4 separate regions of the Homo sapiens genome follow, and all the other regions are reported to be linked to region 1. The links are microRNA targets in miRTarBase. Many come from high-throughput screens and were not tested one by one. Region 1 holds a microRNA gene; each other region holds the end of a gene's coding sequence.
The links. Region 1 holds the annotated microRNA hsa-miR-4762-5p (CCAAAUCUUGAUCAGAAGCCU, at 896-916, shown strand). A microRNA usually pairs through its seed, bases 2 to 8, with sites in the 3' UTR of a target mRNA and lowers its output. Matches are read on the target gene's strand: a 7mer-m8 pairs with bases 2 to 8, a 7mer-A1 pairs with bases 2 to 7 and ends in A, and an 8mer does both.

Region 1 (3,184 bases):
CATAATGTCCTCCAGAGGCCAGTTTACCAAGCTGCATCAGCTCCTCCCTCCCAGCCACCCTGCCCTTCATAAAGCTCTAGTTTTGTAGGGGATGGGGTGGGATGGGGTCACACCTCAGCTGCCGGCATGAGCTAAGGGACCATATAACAGTCAGCACTGTCCATCGCTTGCTTCTCTCTCTTTCTAATTTACATACAGCTAAACACAGATTTTTAATGAATGGCTGATAAGTTTTGACAGATGTCTGCACCTGTGTAATTATCACCCCAGTCAAGGTACAGAGAGCACCTCTATCCCCTCAGAAAGTTTTTTCCATGCTGGCTGTTGTGTGCCAGTGTGCCAGGAGAGCATGGGGCAGGGGAATGATGGCCCTAAGAAAGGAAGGAGGAACAGGGGGAATCTTGAATTACATTCTTTCCCCACGTGGAGATAGATTTGTGCTAATTCCACAACGTGGAACATCCTCCTTCGTTTGCTTAGACTTCCCTGGGAGCAGTAGCCCATGTACTGGTGGCCTAGCTCAACTGTGGCTTGGTTCTGGGCCTGTAAAGCCATCTTTCCCACCTACAGATGACATTCCCTATCTTCATCATGTGCTTTTAGTCAGGTTTCCTGCGGGCCAGATGCATCTGAGAGTGTGCCCTCATTAATATGGGACTCTGTGTATGTCCAGCACATGTGGGGTTTATTCACGTACCAGTGATTATTATTCAACATCGTTCCCTTTAGTGCAGCAAGCACTTTCTGAGTGCTTACCATGTGCCACTTTCTGTGAACCTCTGCAGTTCAACAGTGGAGTCAGAGGCAGTCCTTGTTCTCAAGTAGCTCATGATCTACTGTGGGAGACAGATGGCTAGATGATAGGGTGTAGTCATATCCCATTATTTCTGATACCCCAAATCTTGATCAGAAGCCTTGATCAGAAGCTAGGAAGGCTTCTGATCAAGATTTGTGGTGTCAAGAATAACAACGATTACAGCAATAGTAGTTGCTTATTGAGTGTGTCCTGTGTCCTAGGCACAGTTCTGAGTATTCGTCTCTTACCTCATTTAATGATGATACCTCTCCCATGTTGCAGATGAGGAGACTGAGGGCCAGAATGGTTCAGTAGTGTACCCAAGGCCACACAGCTGTTAAGTGGCATGAGAAAGAAAGAAACTTTCATTTTAAGCCTCTTAGATTTTTGTGGATTGTTTGTTACTGCAGCACGAACCAGCCCATCCTCACTGATAAGAGCCCCAGTGTGCGGAGTGGATTCCTGAGCCAGTTAAAAGGTTGCTACAGCAGTGGAGGCCTGGTTGGAGGGTGGTGATAAGCCTGGAAATAAAAGGACATATGTGAGAGACAGTAATTTGATAAAGAGTAATGAAAGAGGAAGCTTTCTTTCAGGTAGCTTATTCTGTTTCATTATTGTTGTTTTCCTTTTGGGAAAGAAGTTGAATTTTCATTGTTGGCTTATGTTTTCAAGGGTGACCTCAGTATTTTATTTTATTTTATTTTTTTGAGACGGAGTCTTGCTCTGTCGCCAGGTTGGAATGCAGTGGCGTGATTTCGGCTCACTGCAACCTCCACCTCCCAGGTTCAGGCGATTCCCCAGCCTCAGCCTCCCAAGTAGCTGGGACTTTAATGTTTTTATATTGGTGATTTTGAGCAGAGACTGTATTACCATCTAAAACACTACAAGCCTAGCATGTAAGCTCCATGTCTGTTTGCTCCTCATTCTCTCCAGGGCCCCTGGCACAGTTCCGGGCCCACAGTGAGTGCTCTGTAAACTTTTAGGGATGAACAAATGAATATTTTTAAATCTGTTCATTGTTTTCACAGTTAAACTTTTCTAAGCACTTATGTAATACTGTGTTTACTTAATTTTCATTTCTCACCAACCTTTATGGAAGACTAGGTGATAACTGGTTAAATTGTAATACAGTATCATAGGTATAATCTCGAAAAGGTAAAAATCAAATGTAACGAAGCATTATAATCCAGTGACTGGAACATTTTATGCAAGCCTTTGCTCTTTATTTATCTATTTTTTTATCATACACTTCTTCCCAGTTTTTGCTTAGTCCTTGTTAGCAGTTACATTAAAATCTGTTTTAAGTTCCACCTCAGGGAATATCAAAAGTTGGTTACTTTTCTAAATGGGCCTTTAATTAAAATTTTAAAAAATTAGACCATTGTGTTAGATTTTTTAAAATGTTGGCTAAAACAGAAAAGGTTGATTTCAGTGCAGTTGGGCTGAAACTATACTTAAATAGATTAAAGTATAATCTGGCTTTTAAAAAAAACACATCTGACTGGGATGAAGTAGTTGTGGTCTTAACTGAAGCAGGTGAATGGACCATATTCGCCTTTAAGAGCCTTCTGACTCCCAGGTTTTCTGATTTTTAAAAACTTCCTATTTAGTCATATGTTTTTACTTCACTTTATGGTTTAAGTGAGCCAACCAACAAAAGTTACTCATAAAAGATAGTATTTTACTTGTAACAATTGCAGAAAAAGTGAAAAGCTTGACATTACAGGTAGAAAGGAAGTCAGTCTCTGTCCCCTGTGCGTTTCCGAGACTGTGTTTCTATTTATTTGCCCTTTGTCTGTTTCCCCTGACCAGCGTGCGTTTCTTTCTGGAGGCGCAGGGACCTCGGCTTATTTTTCTCTGTCTTTGCATTGCTTGACAGAGGGCCTGACCCAGGGTAGGCACTCCCGCTTCATGACTACATCTCATTTTTTATTTATCTTTGTTATGATAGATAGCAGATAAAGCAGTTGATTTCAGTCAGAAGCAGACCACAGCAGCAGGATTCTTTCCACGGTGCATGTTCTGGCTGAGTGTTGGTGGGCTCCACCCTAGCCGAACCTGTGTCTGCACACCTGTTGTGTCTTCCTGGGAGGCTCCCAGGCATGCTCCTGTCTGGCCAGGGTGCTTCCTCCTCGCTCTCCAGCTGGCTGAAGGGAAGCTGGGCAAGAGTGTATGTGTTTAGGCCACAGGGAGAGCACAGACTCCCAGAGCATGAACCAAGGGGCTTCCAGGCCTCAGGGACTGCCTCCTGGTCCCCCAGAGGCCACCTCACTCTTACTCCTGTCTCCAGGCTGGTGACCTCACATGGCCCCAGCCATCTCTCCACATCCTCCCCTCCCTGCTGTGGAGCCCCCACTGACAGATGCCTTCCCCCTGTGTTTTGGCTCC
Region 2 (3,184 bases), not on the chromosome of region 1:
GGCAAACACTAACTTATTTTTTATCTCTATCAATTTTCCTATTAAGAGCATTTCATATGAAGGGACATATTGTTATATGAAGGATCTTTGTTGTTTGGCATCTATACTTAGTATAATGTTTTAAAAAGTCTCATTAATGGTATAGCATGCATCAAGACTTTATTATTTTTATTGCCAAATAATATTCTAAAACATATTGTTTATTCATTTATCAGTGATGAACTGTAGTTTTCTCTCCAGTTTTGGTTAAGATGTTATCAACATGCATGTATTAATTTTGTATAGACCTATTGCCATTTGTGTCTGGTATATTACTAGAGGTAGAATTGCTGGGTCATATTGTAACTCTGTTTAAACTTTAATAAACTGGCAGATTGTTTCAAAGTGCCTGAATAATTTTTGATACACACAAGCAAAGTATGAAGATTCCAAATTCTCCATATCCTTGCCAACACTTTTAATTACTTATCTTTTTGATAATAGCCATGTTAGTGAGGGTGAAGTGGTATCTCATTGTGGTTTTTACTTAAATTTTCCTGTAATAATGTTGAACTTAATGATGCAGAGCATTTTTTCATTTGTTCTTATTGGACATTACATTTGCTCATTTGTCCTCATTGGACATTTACATATTCCTTAGAGAAATGCCTGTTCAGATCTTATGCACATTTTTGGATTGGGTCATTTTTTTTTTATCATTGAGCTGTAAGCTTTCTTTATAAATTTCTTACACAAGTCATTTACCATGTATGTAATTTGCAACTATATCCTCCAAAGTCTGGTTTCTCTTCAGACTTTAGTGCTGGTGTTTGGATGTACAAAAATTTTGATTTCAGTGAAGTCCAATTTATCAATTTTAATTTGATTGCTTCTGCTTTTGGTGTCATATCTAAAAACCTTGCAAAATTCAGGGTTAGAAAGAAAGCTATACCCATATTCTTCCTGCTGAGAGTTTTATAGTTCTTGATCTTACATTTAGTTTTTTTTTAATCTATTTTGAGTCCATTTTTATATATGACTTGAGGTAAGGGGTTCAATTTTATTCTTTTGAATACTGATAATCAGTTTGTCCACTGGTATTTGTTAAAGATATTGTTTTTTCTCCATTGTATAGTTTTGCATTCTTGTCAAATATCAATTGACTCTATGTTTGGCTATATTTCTAGATTTTACAAACTATTAAAATTGAGTATATGCCTAGCTATATGCCTATAGCTAATGCATGCTAAGCTTAATACCTAGGTGATGGGCAGATAGGTGCAGCAAACCACCATGGCACACGTTTACTATGTAACAAACCTGCACATGTATCCTGGAACTTAAAATAACATAAAATTGAAAAAAGAAACAGTGAAAGAAAGAAGAATTTCAAAAATATCACTAAGGCAACGAATGTAATTTATCTTCTCAATTTCAAATATTGAAATTAACACTTTAGCTAGAAATGTCATTAAATTTATAAAGGGTAAAGAAAGCAAAATCTTTAATATATTTATTAAATTAATGCAAGGCTGAATCAAGTAAAAGTATTTGCCTTCAACTATGCTTTCCGTTGATAAACATTTATTATGCCATATCCTTGGTGAAGCTCTTAGTCTTTTATATACATAGCATAACAATTAATTGATAAATTAAAATTTGTGGAAGATAAAGACAAAAATAATGCAATGATATCAAATTCCAAGTAAGCATTTTTTATTTTTTGGCATAAAATTAAACTTTTGATTACAAATAGTGATTATATATTATGAACATTAGTGATTTTTAAGCATAATTAATTGATGTTTTATGTAATTATTTGTACAGTTGACTAAAAATTTTATAAAAATGATAATTATTTTCTAGATTTCTAATTGTTATATCCTCTAAATATGATCTGTTCACCTTCAACATATAACATAGAACTTTCTCCTTGAAATAAAAGAGTCGATTGATTGATTTATTAAAGACAGTACCCAAATCTTCCACTACAGGTTATATAAGAATATATGTTGAAGAAAGGCAGGCAAGTTATGCCGTGATTTTCTAGATATGCTTAATGAAAATTTTGTAGACATTTAATAGGGACGCACGTCACACTTAAAATTCATTCTCTAACTCCTGAAACATTGAGCAAGCAGAAGAGTTTGTTTTTATTAAAAAAGGAAATCATTACCTTTCTCATAACACACTACTCTCCTACGGTGGCTCCCTGATTTGTTTGGTATATGGAAATTTGTGAATTTGACTCTTCCTTACACCTATCAAATTCCATCTACACTGTATGCATTACCAGGATTCAGCATATTGTTAATCATTAATTAAGGTTAACGATAAAATAATTTGATACTATGAATAGAACATATTTAAAATTAGGTAGTATCCTTGTGTCAGAAAAGTGACAGGAAGAGGGTATAGTCAGCAGGGAGAGACAAAGGAAAAATAGAAGACTATAACTCACAAGTTAATAATAATCATGCCAAAATCTAGGCTTTATCAGTAGGCTTATCGCAGGTAGAGAAATAGAAAATTTGGAAACAGGATGGGAGACGTGTTTTTGTTAAACTCCTTTTGTCTGGAATTAATAGGACTACACTACTCAGGATTTTGCCAAACTTAAAAATATATATATTTCCTCTTTTTCTTGACCTATTCTCTTTTTTTCTTCTTTCCTATCTTACCAAATTTTTGACAGGAAAACAAACAACATTGTATGACCAAAAATATAGCCGTTGTCACACAGACCAGCAAGAACCCAATTACATCCAAAGAGTGGTACTGGAACCAGGTGAGGTCATGGGCTGCAACCCGAAGGTGCTTGGCTCCTTTGTGGCGCATGACAAACTCGATCCAGAAGACTGCTCGATCCAGGGGCTTTACAGGTTGATCATGGTGAATTCTTGATAACCTCATAGCATTCTCTTTATAACTAGAAGACAAATAAATAGGCAGAAATTAGACAATTTTTGTTTTTATTTTCATTGAAGATAAATATGTGATACACTTTTGCTCTACAAGTTTAAGGCCATAGTTACGTGGAGAAAATATAATTCTTGCATGAACTTTGTTAGTTGTATAGGATTTTAAGAGTTACAAAAAGGAAGATATGGATGAAATATATGCTTAACACAGTATGATCAAATGTAGACATAAAAAAGTAGAGTAAGCCAGTTGTAAATATAGATGTTTAGCATAATTTTTCCAA
Region 3 (3,184 bases), not on the chromosome of region 1:
CTGGTCTCAAACTCCTGATCTCAGGTGATCCACCCACCTCGGCCTCCCAAAGTGCTGGGATTACAGGCATGAGCCACCGAACCCAGCCAATATATACAGTTTTAAAAATCAACGTTGTTTTACTCACCTCATAACATGGTTAAGTCAGCATGATGCCTTTTTTGGATTGCGTTTAAAGAGCTGTTTCAGGGAATATTCTCCAGGCTGTGCTTCACGTCAAGAAAAATGTAGGGCATACTGACTGATGGCGGTAGGCGGGAATCCAGGAGATAATGAGGAGAATGAACTGGGTGTTCACTTTACCAGCTATTAAAAACCGTAGCAAACCATCACCTACCAATGATGATAGTGTGCCATGAATCTGAGAGTTTGGTCAAACCAGTGTTACATATTTAAGGTAAAAAATAGAAAAGTAAACATTTCCATACGTGGGTAAACAGACAGGGCTGGAAAAGCCCTCAAGCCTGGGGCTGCTCCTGCGCCAGTGTGCCTCCAGTTTCTCCGCTGGTGCATGCCAGAGAGTGGTCCTGTGCGGGGCTGAGGATCAAGCCGTTCTGACACAGCTGAGCAGGGCAACCCACATGTCTGGTCATTCATCTTCACCTTTTCTTCCTTTGCCCGTCCCCTGGGGGCTAGAAAGTTACTTAGGTGGAAGTAAAATGCAAACATTAGTACAAAACACTCTATGAATCCACATCCTATCATGTGTATAACTCAGGGTCAGATAGAAGGGCCCTGCCTTCTTCTCAGAATCTGGTAAACTCTGTCCCTCAAACACCCACCTCTTACCTGCCAACACCACTTTCAGAATTGTACCTGCCATCACCACTACCCTGCACCATGTGCCAGAGCTGAGAGCTGCGTGTGAGTCTCAAGGTAGGATATCCTCTTCCAGTTTCAGTTTGACTGAGTGCTTTTCAGTGTTTGTACCATGAATTTGGGGCCTTTTTAAATTTCATGTCTACGTTATTTTCTTCCCTAGTATTGTTTTTCTTTGTCCATTTTAGTGAGCATTTAAATGGAAGTTTTATAAACATGGTTTAGTTTTCTTGCCAGCAGTCTATTTTTTTTCAATTTCAACTCTCTTTTTTTTTTTTTTTCAGACAGAGCCTTGCTCTGTCACCCAGTCTGGAGTGCAGTGGCACAATCTTGGCTTACTGCAACCTCTGCCTCTCAAGTTCAAGTGATTCTCCTTCCTCAGCCTCCCAAGTAGCTGGGATTACAGGTGCCCACTACCATGCCCGGCTAATGTTTTGTATTTTTTAATAGAGACAGTGTTTCACCATGTTGGCCGGGCTGGTCTCGAACTCTTGGCCTCAAGTGATCTGTCTGCCTCGGCCTTCCAAAGTGCTGGGATTACAGTGTGAGCCACCACACCCAGCCTCAATTTCAACTTTTATTTTAGATGCAGGGCATACATGTGCAGGTTTGTTACGTGGGTATATTGCACCTAGGTAGTGAGCATAGTACCATTAGGTAGTGTTTCAACCCGCGTCCCCCTCCCTCCCTCCCTCCCTGCTCTGGGAGTCTGCAGTATCTGTTGTTCCCAAGTCTATGTTCACATGTGCTCAATGTTTACTCCCACTTAGGAGAACATGTAGTATGAGGTTTTCTGTTCCTGCACTAACGCGCTTAATTAAGATTATAGCCTTCAGCTCCATCCATGTTGCTACAAAGGACATTATTTCATTCTTTTTCATGGCTGTGTGGTATTCCATGGTGTATATGTACATTTTCTTTATCCAATCCACCCCTGATGGGCATCTAGGTTGATTCTATGTCTTTGCTATTAAGAACAGTGTGGTAATGAACATATAAATGCATGTATCTTGTTGGAATAATGACCTATTTTCCTTTGGGTATATATCCAGTGATGTGATCGCTGGGTGAAATGGTAACTCTTAAGTTTTATGAGAAATCTCTAAACTGCTTTCCATAGTGGCGGAACTTACATTCCCACTGACAGCTATATAAGCATTCCCTTTTCTCTGCAGCCTCGCCAGCATGTTGTTTTTTGACTTTTTAATAATAGTCATTCTGATAGGTATGAGATGGTATCTCATTGTGGGGTTTTGCATTAAATTGATTTGCATTTCTCTGATGATTATTAACGAGCATTTTTTCAAATGTTTGTTGGCTGCTTGCATGTCTTCTTTTGCGAAGTGTCTGTTCAGGTCCTCTGCCCATTTTTTAATGGAGGTATTTGTTTTTTGTTTGTTGATTTAAGTTCCTAATAGATTCTGGATGTTAGACCTTTGTCAAATGCATAGTTTGAGAATATTTTCTCCCATTCTGTAGGCTGTCTGTTTACTCTGTCGACAGTCTCTTTTGCTGTGCAGAAACTCTTTTGTTTAATTAGGACCCAGCACTCTAGTCTTTTACACGTTTTAAAGCTGTAAGCGTGAAGACTATAGCAACAATATGTCTGCTGGCTGGAGTAGAATCTGCCAATCTGAATCCTACAAATGCAACCTGAAAGAATTATTTTCCCTTAGAAAACTTTCTCCCCAACAACCAAATTTTAACTCAAACTCTTTATACAATAACTTACTCTTATTAAAGTTTGGGTCTGTTCTGATTATTAAAGTAACATATACTTGTTTTAGAAAATTTGGAAAATACAGAAACGTATTAAAAAACTAAGAATCACCCATAATTCCACTACCACCCAGAGTTCATTGCTCTGCAGGTTTTAGCTTTGTCCACTGAATCTTAGCCGCCCCAACTTTCCAAATCTTGTCATAGACCGTCTTCCAAAGCATTCATGTCTTTTCCCACAGGAAATGACATATAAACATGTAACATATAAAAAAAGTACTCAACCAAATGTGGTTTCTTTACGAAGTGATTCCCTACAAAACCTCTATTTTCCAAATTCCTATGAGCCAGAGACTCTGATACAGACTAATGAGCATTTATTAAAATAACAACAATGAGAGAACAAAGAGGAGAGAGGGTAGGGGGGCTCATCTCCAGACTCCCCCCCGGCTCCTCATGCTACTCGGGGCAGGGTGCCCACTTTTCTTCCGTGCGGGAGGTTTTTCAGTCTTGGGGGCTGTAGCAAGGCGGCGAGGGACAGCCTGGGAGGGAATCTGAGAGTTGAGGGAAGAGAGAGGAAGAAATCAGCGTCAGATCCTCTCAATTCCCCACCCCACTGAGGAAATGCACGTGGAGAGGGCCAGAT
Region 4 (3,184 bases), not on the chromosome of region 1:
AGAAAAGAAATCTTGTAAATGTAATGAGTGTGGGAAGTCCTTTCACTTCCAGTCAGAACTTAGGCGCCATCAGCGATGTCACACTGGAGAAAAGCCGTATGAATGCAGTGACTGTGGAAGAGCCTTTGGTCATATTTCATCCCTTATTAAACATCAAAGAACTCATACTGGAGAAAAGCCCTATGAATGCAGTGAATGTGGGAGAGCCTTCAGCCAGAGTTCGTCTCTTGTTCTGCACTATAGATTTCACACTGGAGAGAAACCCTACAAATGTAATGAATGTGGACGAGCCTTTGGTCACACTTCATCCCTTATTAAGCATCAGAGGACTCATACTGGAGAAAAGCCCTATGAATGCCGGGAATGTGGGAGAACCTTCAGCCAGAGCTCATCACTCATTGTGCATTACAGATTTCATACTGGAGAGAAACCTTACAAATGTAATAAATGTGGGAGAGCCTTCAGCCAGAGTTCATCTCTCACTCAACATTACAGATTTCACACTGGAGAGAAACCCTACAAATGTAATGAGTGTGGAAGGGCCTTTGCTCATACTGCATCCCTTATTAAACATCAGAGAAGTCATGCTGGAAAAAAAACCCTATAAATTCAGTGAATATAGAAGGGCTTTCAGCTGGAGTGCAGACATCACTGGAACTTAAAGAATTCATATCAGAGAGAGATCCTAAAGGTGTAATGTATGTGGGAAGACCACATCTTGTTCCACATCAGGCAATAATTACTAAAGAGAATCCCTGTCAATGTCAAGAGGGGGTGGGCTTCCCCTCTCTTACCAAACATGGGAGAATCCATACTAGTGAGAAACCACGTGAATGTAATGAATGTGGGAACGCTTTGATCAGAGGATGCATATTATTCAGCATCAGACAGCCGACACTGGGGAGGAGCCTTATCAATGCAGTGAGTGTGGCAAGCCTTCAGTTACATACTGATTCTTTAAGAAAATCAGATAACTTGTACTGGAGAGAAATCCTACAAGTGTGGTAAGTATGGAAAAATCTTCAGTTGTATCTCTTCCTTTACTAAGCATCAAGAACACATACTAGAGAGAGGCCCTATGAAAGCAGGAAATAGAGGAAGGCCTTCAGTCAGGGCTCATCCCTTATTAAGCATCAGAAAATTCATACCTGAGAAAAACCTGTGAATGTGGGTAATGTGGGAGAGCCTTCAGCCAAACCTCATTGCTTTATAAACCCCTTAGAACTCTCCCTACTAGCTGGAAACTCTGGTGACGTGATGAATGTGGGAAGGGCTTTGGTGGATGTTCCACCAAAACACGTTAGAGAATTTGTACATTAGAGAATTTGTGCTAGAGCAACTCTTCAAATTTAGTGAAACTGGGAAAACCCATTAGTAGAGTTCAAGCTTCAGTATTCATCTCAAAGAGAAACCTTGGGAACATGATGAATGTGAGGAAAGTTCCTTTCCAACTTGAGATGTATAAAACTAGAGCTGAAAAGAAGCTGAGAAATCACCTTGTCTGGTGATTTTCTGCCTGGTGGGGCCATTTGTATAACGACACTTGTGCATTGCCTCCTCATGCTGTTACTGACGGGGCAGGGTGTCATGCATGGGTGCAGAGGATGGAGGCTGAGAAAGGTAGACAGCTACCCATGATCTAGCCCAGTCGTATTTTAGAGCTAATAAAACTGATGTTCAGAAAGTGACATGCCTTGGCCTATAGTCCTAACTGGGCTGGGCCTCTTTCCTGTGGTTCACAGCTGTAGTATGGAGATTAATAGACTGGATCTTTGCAGTACAACACCTCTATGCACTTCTTTCTCTGTAGCACATGTTACCTTTCTTTGTGAGGCAATGGAGTGGTCTAGGATTGAGCAAAAAGCAATTTTTGTTACATCTTTATGCTAATAGATTTGGAATTTTTGAAATGAAATGAAACCTTGTTTAAACATTAAAATTACTAAAATAGGCTGGGCGCGGTGGCTCACGCCTGTAACCTCAGCACTTTGGGAGGCCGAGGCGGACAGATCACGAGGTCAGGAGTTCGAGACCATCCTGGCTAACACAGTGAAACCCTGTCTCTCCTAAAAATACAAAAAAATTAGCCAGGCATGGTGGCGGGCGCCTGTAGTCCCAGCTACTTGGAAGGCTGAGACAGGAGAATGGCGTGAATCGGGGAGGCAGAGCTTGCAGTCAGCCGAGATCACGCCACTGCACTCCAGCCTGGGAGACAGAGTGAGACTCCGTCTCAGAAAAAAAAAAAAAAAACAACTAAAATATGGGTATTATGCACAATCCAGATCTCAAAAACGTGATTCTAAGTGAAAGAAGGCAGATGCCAGAGACCAGGTATTTTCTAGTACCATTTTAGGAAATGTCCAGAAATGGCAGATCTTCAGAAACAAAGTAACTGCAAATGTTACAAGGAATCTTTTTAGGGTGACGAAAATGTTCTAAAACTAGATGGTGGTGATGGTTGAACGATTTGGTAACTTCACTAAAAATCATTGAATTGTTCACTTTATATGGGCAGATTTTATGGTAAATATACCTCAATAAAATCATTTTTCAAAATCAAATTTACACATATACCAACCATTGCTAAACAAGTATTCCTGTTTTGTTTGTTACTTCAAGCCATCTATGCATTTTTGGTATCACTTTTTATTTTCTGTAACAGTTACCCCTACATTTACTGGGTCTCAGAACCTTGTCAGGCTCTGCTTTAAAGTTCCTACCATGTTGGCTCTGTAACTCAGGTGGAGAAGCCTAGACCAGGAGCTGGCGTAGACCAAAGGATACTTGCCTAATAAGGATTAGCTTATACTGAGGAAAATACTTTAAGCATTTAAAGTCCAGATGAGGAAGTTGAGCCCAGAATTCAGGGAACCAGCTCAAAGTGGGCCCATGCAGACAGGCTGGGTCTAAGAGTCCACAAGGTTGGCCAGGGCAGGTAGGATGCACAGGAGGCATCTGGATCTGGAAGTACTTGGACAGCTGAGGTCAAGATCACACAGAAATTTATTCCTGGACAGCCAAGGTTTACAGGAGCAGAAATAGCAAATATTTTCTTGCTCCGTCTCTCCCTTTTTTCCCAGTGCCCTTTTCTGTACCTACCCAGATCACTTTATACCTAGACATCTGTCACAATTTTGTAACTGGTCTTCGTCCAAAATCTGTCTCCTCTTCTCATGTATCCTTG

Region 2: miRTarBase lists UGT2A2 as a target of hsa-miR-4762-5p. Seed matches in the 3' UTR shown: 7mer-m8 at 1,957-1,963.
Region 3: the mRNA of CNTROB is a reported target of hsa-miR-4762-5p. Seed matches in the 3' UTR shown: 7mer-m8 at 2,731-2,737.
Region 4: the mRNA of ZNF514 is a reported target of hsa-miR-4762-5p. Seed matches in the 3' UTR shown: 7mer-m8 at 1,892-1,898.

What each region holds. Positions count from the first base shown.
Region 1 is chr22:45,759,637-45,762,820 of GRCh38, forward strand. It overlaps MIR4762 (microRNA 4762), which reads left to right and starts at 888; the gene lies at 888-962. All of the region lies in intron 9 of ATXN10 (ataxin 10), which reads left to right. RefSeq lists an enhancer at 3,015-3,184 and a silencer at 3,173-3,184.
Region 2 is chr4:69,586,744-69,589,927 of GRCh38, forward strand. It overlaps UGT2A2 (UDP glucuronosyltransferase family 2 member A2), which reads right to left. Exons shown (of 6, transcript NM_001105677.2): 6 at 1,674-2,908. The coding sequence ends at 2,629. It overlaps UGT2A1 (UDP glucuronosyltransferase family 2 member A1 complex locus), which reads right to left. Exons shown (of 7, transcript NM_001252275.3): 7 at 1,674-2,908. The coding sequence ends at 2,629. Among named protein-coding and RNA genes, the nearest start is that of UGT2A2, 51 kb to the right of the region's middle.
Region 3 is chr17:7,949,293-7,952,476 of GRCh38, reverse strand. It overlaps CNTROB (centrobin, centriole duplication and spindle assembly protein), which reads right to left. Exons shown (of 19, transcript NM_053051.5): 19 at 2,557-3,092. The coding sequence ends at 2,967. Among named protein-coding and RNA genes, the nearest start is that of CNTROB, 19 kb to the right of the region's middle.
Region 4 is chr2:95,146,705-95,149,888 of GRCh38, reverse strand. ZNF514 (zinc finger protein 514) reads left to right here. Exons shown (of 5, transcript NM_032788.3): 5 at 1-3,184. The coding sequence ends at 607. Among named protein-coding and RNA genes, the nearest start is that of ZNF514, 12 kb to the left of the region's middle.